Linked DNA regions of Homo sapiens: region 2 is reported to be linked to region 1. The links are microRNA targets in miRTarBase. Many come from high-throughput screens and were not tested one by one. Region 1 holds a microRNA gene; the other region holds the end of a gene's coding sequence.

The links. The annotated mature microRNA hsa-miR-5589-3p reads UGCACAUGGCAACCUAGCUCCCA and lies in region 1 at 1,559-1,581, opposite strand. An mRNA with a match to its seed (bases 2 to 7 or 8) in the 3' UTR can be bound and repressed. Matches are read on the target gene's strand: a 7mer-m8 pairs with bases 2 to 8, a 7mer-A1 pairs with bases 2 to 7 and ends in A, and an 8mer does both.
Region 2: the mRNA of MVB12B is a reported target of hsa-miR-5589-3p. Seed matches in the 3' UTR shown: 7mer-m8 at 1,287-1,293.

The regions. Positions count from the first base shown.
Region 1 is chr19:10,035,972-10,039,971 of GRCh38, reverse strand. It overlaps MIR5589 (microRNA 5589), which reads right to left and starts at 1,618; the gene lies at 1,559-1,618.
Region 2 is chr9:126,502,940-126,506,939 of GRCh38, reverse strand. It overlaps MVB12B (multivesicular body subunit 12B), which reads right to left. Exons shown (of 10, transcript NM_033446.3): 10 at 1-3,763. The coding sequence ends at 3,677. Among named protein-coding and RNA genes, the nearest start is that of NRON, 94 kb to the right of the region's middle.

The sequences.
Region 1 (4,000 bases):
AAGTGCTGGGATTACAGGTGTGAGCCACCATGCCCAGCCAGCTTGGCTAATTTTTTTTTTTTTTTTGGTAGAGAAGGGGTTTTGCCATGTTGTCCAGGCTGGTCTAGAACTCCTGGCCTCAAGTGATCCTCCTGCCTTGGTCTCCCAAAGCACTGGGATTACAGATGTGAGCCATAGCACCTGGTGCTTGTTTCTCTGTACTCAATCTTTGTGTCCCTGGTCTTCTGGCAGAGCTGGGAGGAAGGGGGCTCACCGAGCCTGGATGTCAACGCCCAGAGCCTCATCCTTGAGGTAAAAGAAAGTCTTATTTGGGACCAGCTGGACCTCAAAAGATGGGAGGACTGGGAGAAAAAAAAAAGCCATGGTCACCCTCAGTATTCTACCTGCTCCCTCGTCCCCTCCCAGTCCTGCTCCTTCCTTGGTGGCTCTGTCAAGCCCGAAGGGCTGCAACACCAGCACCCAACACTTAGCATCCAGCTCAGGCCCTGGGTTACAGCAGAGGTTCCCCTTGAGACCTCCTTTCTATTCCAAGTCCTGTCCCTGGCGTATTCATCTTGCTCACCCCACCCACACCTTTCTCACCATATTCCTTCACATCAAAGGCAGCCTCGAACTTCTGCTTGGGTGTACTTTGGTAGCTGGCTTCGATGGTCCAGGTCCCCAAACTGAGGCACAGAAAGTTAAGAGAGATGGAGACAGAGAATGACAGCCTCCTTTGCCACCCCTCGGGCTCCCAGACCTGACAAGGGCACCTGACAAGCTCTGGGAGGTGAAAGGAGCTGAAAAAGAAGCCATCCTTGGCCATCAGACTCTGGCTAATCACGGTGATTCCCTTTGGGTTCTGTGGGGATAGGGGGTGGGGCTGGTGACTGCCCTCTGGGAGGGCCCTGGTGGCTCATGCCCCCAGGACTTCAGCACACCATGTAACCCCAGTGTCCAGGATCCACCACCACCCCCCACCCCTCATCGGGAAAGACCACCTTGATGTCCAGAGTGAATGTCCTGGTCACAGGGTCCATCTTGTGGTTCACAGTGAACACCCGGTAGTGAACTAGGGGAGAAGGAGGACTCTGAGTATTGGGTAGAGGAAGGGAAAGAGAGAGAGAGAGTTTGCATCTTGGGCAGTGGCGGGGTGGGGGGCACTTATGCATAGAGAGAGATCTTGGGAGGTGGAGAAGATTTTAGGGGATGGGAGTATCTCAGACATTGGGAGAGACGGGATGAGAGCCAGTGATTGCCCCGAGCCAAGTGCCTCGGGGCTGTACCCAAGTACTCAGGGGTGTAGATGGTCTTCTCCGTCTGGATAAAGATGTAGCCAGCATGAAGAGCCACCAGCACCATCTTCTCCATGAATGAGGAGCCCGAGGTGGGTGCCCAAGTTGCCCGGATGATGACATATTGCTGCCCTGGTTTTGGGAGGTACATCAGGCTCTCGGGAACCTGAGAGAGATATATATCCATACTCCTCAGGCTCTGCTGGGGTCTCCCTGGCTGGGGGTAAAGCCCTGGGACAGATCCTGGGAGGAGCAATTGACTGAGGGTCTTCTGACTCTGCCTTTGGGAGCTAGGTTGCCATGTGCAGTTGTGTAGGTTGCTCACTGCACAAGAGCACCCAGCCAAAGGAAGGACGAAATCAAGTCCATGCTCATCTTCCCAAGCTACCAACAGAAGGCACCTTTTATAGTTCTCAGAGAGGCATCAAATGGGCTAGTGGAGGCTTCCTGGAGCCCAGGCTTAGGGACTTTTGGCTTCTAAATGCACAGGATATTAGAGGAGTGGTAAGTACTTTGGGCCCTTTATCTACTCTCTGGACAGAAAGTCTGCCCCTTTCTACCTTTATTGCTGACCTGTAGCCTCCCTTTGGGGTCACACATTCCAGCCTGTCACCCACCGTCACAGGTGCCTGGTCCATAAAGTTGTTTCCTGGTGAGAGAATGAGCTGGCTCCTTGCCAACACTGTCTTCCTCATGGGGAAGTCCCACACTGTGAGGTTCACCTTGAGGGTCCTTGTGAGGGGCTGTCTGGAGTCTGAGTGGGCCTGAATGTGAATGCTCTCCGGACTGCCAACCCTCAGAACTCGGGGGGTCACCAGGATGTACCTGCCAGTAGACTAACACAAGGGCATTAAGGGACTTGAGTAGGGAAAATGACACCGAACACGAGTCATAAGCTGGAATCACGCAGACATCAGATGTGCAGGAAGCCGGCTGAGCCCCCTCCATTCCCCAGACTCACAGAGGCTCAGCGTGGATGAGGGGGCTTCCCAAAAGAAGCAGAATCCACCCTAGGGGCCAGGGCATTTCCATGGTGGGTGGGAGGGTGACAGGAGGCCACAGGCTGCAGATGTCTGTCCTCTTGTCTGTCCTCTTGTCTGCCCTGGCCCTGGCCTGTTTGCCTTGACTTGTAGTGGCTGAGTTAATATCTAAACAGGTGTGGGGCAAGAATCCCTATAAATCCAATGGGGCGGAGTTGGGGGTGTTTCTTACTTCCCAGCCAAGCCTCCAAGATATGCTTGAGAAGTGCCCCATCCGCTTCCTTGGGGGCCAGAGTGGTAGGAGAACTGCCTGTCCCATGAGCCATGAGGGTCTTATCCACGCCCCTCTCCCCTTTTTTTCTGAGACAGAGTCTGGCTCTGTCACCCAGGCTGGAGTGCAATGGCACAATGTCAGCTCACTGTAACCTCTGTCTCCCACGTTCAAGTAATTCTCATGCCTCAGTCTCCCAAGTAGCGGGGATTACACGCATGGGCCAGCAAGCTCATTTTGTACTTAGTACAAAAATACTAATTTTTGTATTTTTAATAGAGACAGGGTTTCACCACGTTGGCCAGGCTGGTCTCGAACTCCTGACCTCAAGTGATCCACCCGCCTCAACCTCCCAAAGTGCTGGGATTACGGGCATGAGCCACTGTGCCTGGCCATGAAGGTCATATCCTAAAGCCTTCCCCTCCGCCAGCAAGGAGCTTTGCACACCCAGGACACTGAACTCAGGGCTTGCTTGGGATTGGCTGGCAGGAGGAGAGCAAACATCTTTCTACCCTAGCCTGGATGGATTTTCCCTACTTTTGCCTTTGTGAAATTGGCAAAACAGGGCAGCTGCACAAACAGGGGAGGTGCTGGCATTTTTTCCCTATTTCCCAATTCCGGGAGTGAGCAGCATGTGGCATTTGACCATCTGACTCCAGGATCCACCATAACGAAACCTCCTGAGAAATCCATAGGTCAAAGTCCTCTTCTTGGGCTTCAAATCCTTGCGCTATATGGATTTCGTCATCCTTGCAGGAGACAGTTATGCTTAGTAAATTGTGACCATTGTCTATTGTTTCCTAAGTCATGCCAGAGTCTCTGGGTTCCTTTTCCAGAAGGCAAATTATACATATTAAACCAGGGAAGGAAACACATCATGCTTGAAGCATTCCTGGAAAAAGGCTTTCTCTGTCCTCAAATAATTCTCAATGTTTAGCAGGCTTATTAAAGAGAATGTTGAGACGGCTTTGTGGTGTCTGCCTCTAAGAAGCAGTTGGGCTTGATGATGAGTCTGTTTGAATCTGCACCCTACAGTGATGTCAATTCAGCCAGCTTGGGAAATTTTGCCTATTGAAGGGTCCCTGATCCCCCCATCAAATGATAATATAATTTTCTTTTTCTTTAAAGATGGATCTCACTCTGTTGCCCAGGCTGTAGTGCAGTGGTGCGATCTTGGTTCACTGCAACCTTTGCCTCTCAGGTTCAAGCCATCTCCCGCCACAGCCTCCTGAGTATCTGGGATTACAGGCGTGCACCACCACATCCGGCTAATTTTTTGTATTTTTAGTAGAGACGCAGTTTCACCATGTTGGCCAGGCTGGTCTCAAACGCCTGACCTCATGATCCGCCCACTTCTGCCTCCCAAAGTACTGGGATTACAGGCATGAGCCACTGCATCCAGCAGATAATATACATTTATCCGGCAAAGATTCATCAAGCATTTACTTTGACCCTGGCCCCTACTTAGCATACTG
Region 2 (4,000 bases), not on the chromosome of region 1:
TATGCAGCGGGGACGTCATCCCTAAGGGTCTTCCTTGTCCAGGCCTGACACAGTCACACAGCAGCTCCACGGCCTTAGCTGGGAGAACAAAGCCGTCTCTGGTGGCAACCCCCGGACATGTGCTCAGAGTGGCAGGAGGAGGCCGGGCCACCCTGAGGGTGCCAGGCAGCCCAAGCAGGGGCTGTGGGCTCAGGGGTGAGCGCCTGGCGTGGCCTCCAGGGGCAAGGCAGGCTGCGAACCAAGTTCATGAGCTCAGCCGCTGCGTGGCTGCCAGGCCTGGGGGCTGCTTCCTCAAGGCCCTCCTTTGCTTTCATCCTTAGGTTCACCTGCTTCTCCAAGAACCTGCAGGCTGGGATTCCCCACAGATGCCTGCAGGCTCTGGAGGGCCCTCATCTGGGTGGAGGAGTACGGGCAGGCCACTCCTGACCATGCTCTGCGCCCACTGCACAGTGGCCTGGTGACCGGCAGGGCCCAGTGGCGGCCGGGAAGTCCGTAACTGGACTGGAAACAGAAAGGGCAGCCCCAGCACGGGCTTGCGACAGGATGGCTGGCCCTGCCTCTGCCGCTTAGCAGTGGGCCAAGTCAGCCTCTTCAACTCTGACAAGGAGCAAAGAACATCTACTTCCAGGTCACTCTGTTTTTAGGGGGAATGAAAGGAGAAATGTGCTTAGAGAGCCTGGCCTAGAGCCTGGCCAGGAACAGGTGCTTAGAACATGGGAGTCCCTCTTGTCCTCTCACCGACCTGCAATTCCTTTACGTGACCCCACTGGGTTCTCATCTCTCCAAGTGGCGGAGGACGTGGCTGGCATTTGTTCTTGGACTTGGGGTGGGAAGAAAGGCCTTAATTATACATTTGCAAGGGAGACTGCAGCAAAGCACCTGCTCCTTATCACCTTTGTGCCATTTCCAAGGCCTTTGGAGATACTTCAACTTTCCAGAGAGAAAGGGGAGGCGGTGGGGACAGTGTGCTCTGGTTAGCCGTTCTGGAGGGACAGAGGCTGCCAGCAGGGACAGAAGCAGTAGTGGGAAGTGCTGTGGGGGGACCTGAGGGATGAGGCCAAGACCCTTCACATTTCCAAGGGAACCCTTGTCCTTCCCTCCCACAGTGGCCAGAGGGCTCGTGGAGAAAAGTACTCTCCCAAAAGACAGAAACGCTCTCAATTCCTAGGTTTGAGCCAGAGTTTCATGCCTCAGTTCTCCTGCACGAGCCCCACTCAGGTGGGCTTATACACACGCATGTGCGTGCACACACACACATATACACACACACACACACACACACACAGGCACATGCTTGTCCTCACCCACCTCTCAGAAGGCAATAAATGGTGGGTTAGGAGCAGCCTAAAAGCTACCACAGACACCAACTCGTCCTTAACACTGTCTCTGCTTACTTATCTTAAGCTGCCGTTTACTACAACGTTCACAGTCATTTACTCTTATGCTAAGTCCGTAATGCTATGGAGAAGATGGCTCCAGCTCGCTTGAGTCCATGCAGTTTGTCCTCTTCCTGGTGTCCCTATCCATCCAGCAACTGCAGGAGGGCATGCGGGGGCACCTGGCTGGGACCCCAGCTCGACAGGGGCCTGCAGCGGCATCAGTGGGGGCTGTGGGAGCCCCTTCCTCTCCTGCAGCCGCCCTCACTGCTTATTCTGCGTCCTTGCAGACAGGGCTCCCACACCACTGCCTCTGAGCCTCCTAGGGTCCAGCGGCGCTGCCACAGGCCTCTTCCCAGTCATGGGGGCGGAGTGAAGGGCCCCTGGCATTACCTGTTAGAGGCAATCTCACAACCAGGGCACGAAAAGAGGTGAAGGACAAAGTTCACAAACCCTAATGAAGTGGGCAGAAGTGGCCAGAGCTCTGCCCTCTGCCCTCCTGCTGCCCCCACCTGCCAGGAGTCACCCTTGCTGTTGGGCTTTGTCACACAGGGCACCACCCGAGGAGCCACGGCAGACATAGGTGCCCCCTGTGGGTGCCACAGGGCTCCTCAGGTCCCCAGAACCACACTGGCTTATGTGAACGGAGCATCGGCAGCCAGCCTGGCAGCCCCCTCCCTGCTCAGCATCAGTCCCATGACAAGGTCCTGCTGCTGTGCCACCCAGGAGTCCTGAGAAGGCCACCCCCACCAGGGGCATCCTCGGGTCTCAGGGAGGGAGAAGTGGCCGCTTCCCTTATCCACAGAAATCAAGAGGTATCCGAGTGAAGATCGGGGTGGCAGAGGAGGAAGATGGGTCCACAAAGAGGCCTGGGGCCTGGAGACGGAGGGGCTGGTGCAGGGGCATGAGGTATTTCTGGCCCCGCCCGCCTCTTGGCCAGCTGCGCCGTCCGGCGCTGCCTCCCTTTCCTCCCGTTCCTCTGGGCCTCAGCTAGCACTACTGTGGGCTGCCCAGGACCTGCAGCAGGAGGCCGTCCCCGCTGAGGCAGAGGCTTCCACGGACGCAGGTAGTGCAGCCCCCAACCGCAGCATCAAGCCTCCACATCCAAGAGCCAACTCTTGGGGACCCAAAGATGTCAGGTCCCCATACTCTGAGGAATCAGGACACAGCCCAGTGCCTGACACCACAGAGTGAGGCAGCCCTTCGGGTGAGGGCCTGGGCCCCGAGGGATGGCAGCCACCACTGCCTAGGCAAACGCACCTGGGGCTGAACTTGGCGCCCGGCACTTTGAGGACGCCAGCACCAGTGGGCACTCGGAAGTGCCAGTTCTGGCCCAAATTTGGTGACCTGGGTCAGAGGGACCTTTCAGAATGACTTGTTCCCGTCAGCAGATACCGTCAAGACACGCCTGGCTCTGAGAGGGGCTGGGTGCCCGTGTGCCTGTATCCTCCTGGGGCCAGCACGTCTCAGAGGGTGTCCCTGTGGTCCCCGGGTCAGGGCACGGGGCTGAGGCACCTGGAGCTATTGTTGGCATGTGGTTGTTGCACAGATGAGCCCTTGGGGGAGGCGCGCCATGGCCGAGCACAGCGTCCTGGTGGTGGATCCAAGCAGGGCCGTCAACCGTCCTCCTCCCCAGAAAGCAACAACCCCTCCACCGGGGGCAGGGGTGCTGCTCCCCGACTTCCAGGCGACTGGGTGACAAGTCCATGGGATGTCCAAAGGGCAGGGTCCACCCCAGGGCCACTGGCTTCTTCCTCCCATGTCTTCTCAGGGCTGCTGTGAGATCCTGCAGAGAGGAACTTGTTCCTGGCAGCCCTGGGCCGGGGAGGATCAGCGACCCTGGAGAGTCCTAGGCAAAGCTGCCGGCCCTCAGGGTCTTCCAGGAAGAGACTCAACGGCTTAGTGGGGTCTGCCCTGGTAGGTGACAGGAGGGAGCGGAGGGAGCCGGTGGGCGTCACTGGGCGGCCAGGGCAACTGCCCGGGGCCCTCAGGGTGACTCCGTGGTGAGTGAGGTTTTTGGAGGACAACTGGTCATCACACAGACACGTTAGGAGCCGCTGGTCACTACAGCACACACAGATTAGTCATGGTTATGAACAATGTCCCCAGGGAGGCCGGGGTGTCAGTGAGGCCAGCTGAAGACAGGATGCGCCCACTTAGCTGCCCAGTCTCCGGGCCAGCCCTGCTGGGGCAGTGTGGGAGGGAGGGCTGGCGGAGGCGGCAGGAGGAGGCGGGGGCAGCAGCCCCTGCCGTCAGTAGTCTGGGCGGCGGTGGTCTCCCCGCAGGTGGCCGCTGGCTCCTCAGGACTGCGGGATCTGCTGACACCTGGTGGGGCTGGGCGGGAGCCTGGCGGCTGCGCTCTGCTCTGTGCGGAAGCTGTACTCGTACTGCAGGGGCGGGTGGGGACAGAGAGACACAGTCAGTCCATGGGACACTAGGGAAACCCCTCCACAGCCTCAGATCAAGATCAGGCAGAGGCCTGGGCCGCCTCGTGGGGCATCTTGACATGGCGCAGCTGGCCAGGCCGGTGCCAGCCAGAGCCTGCCCTCGTGGGCCCCTGAACTGTGCATGTGGCGTGTGTGCGTGGACACGCCTGCGGGGGTGACAGGCTCCTGTGGTGATGA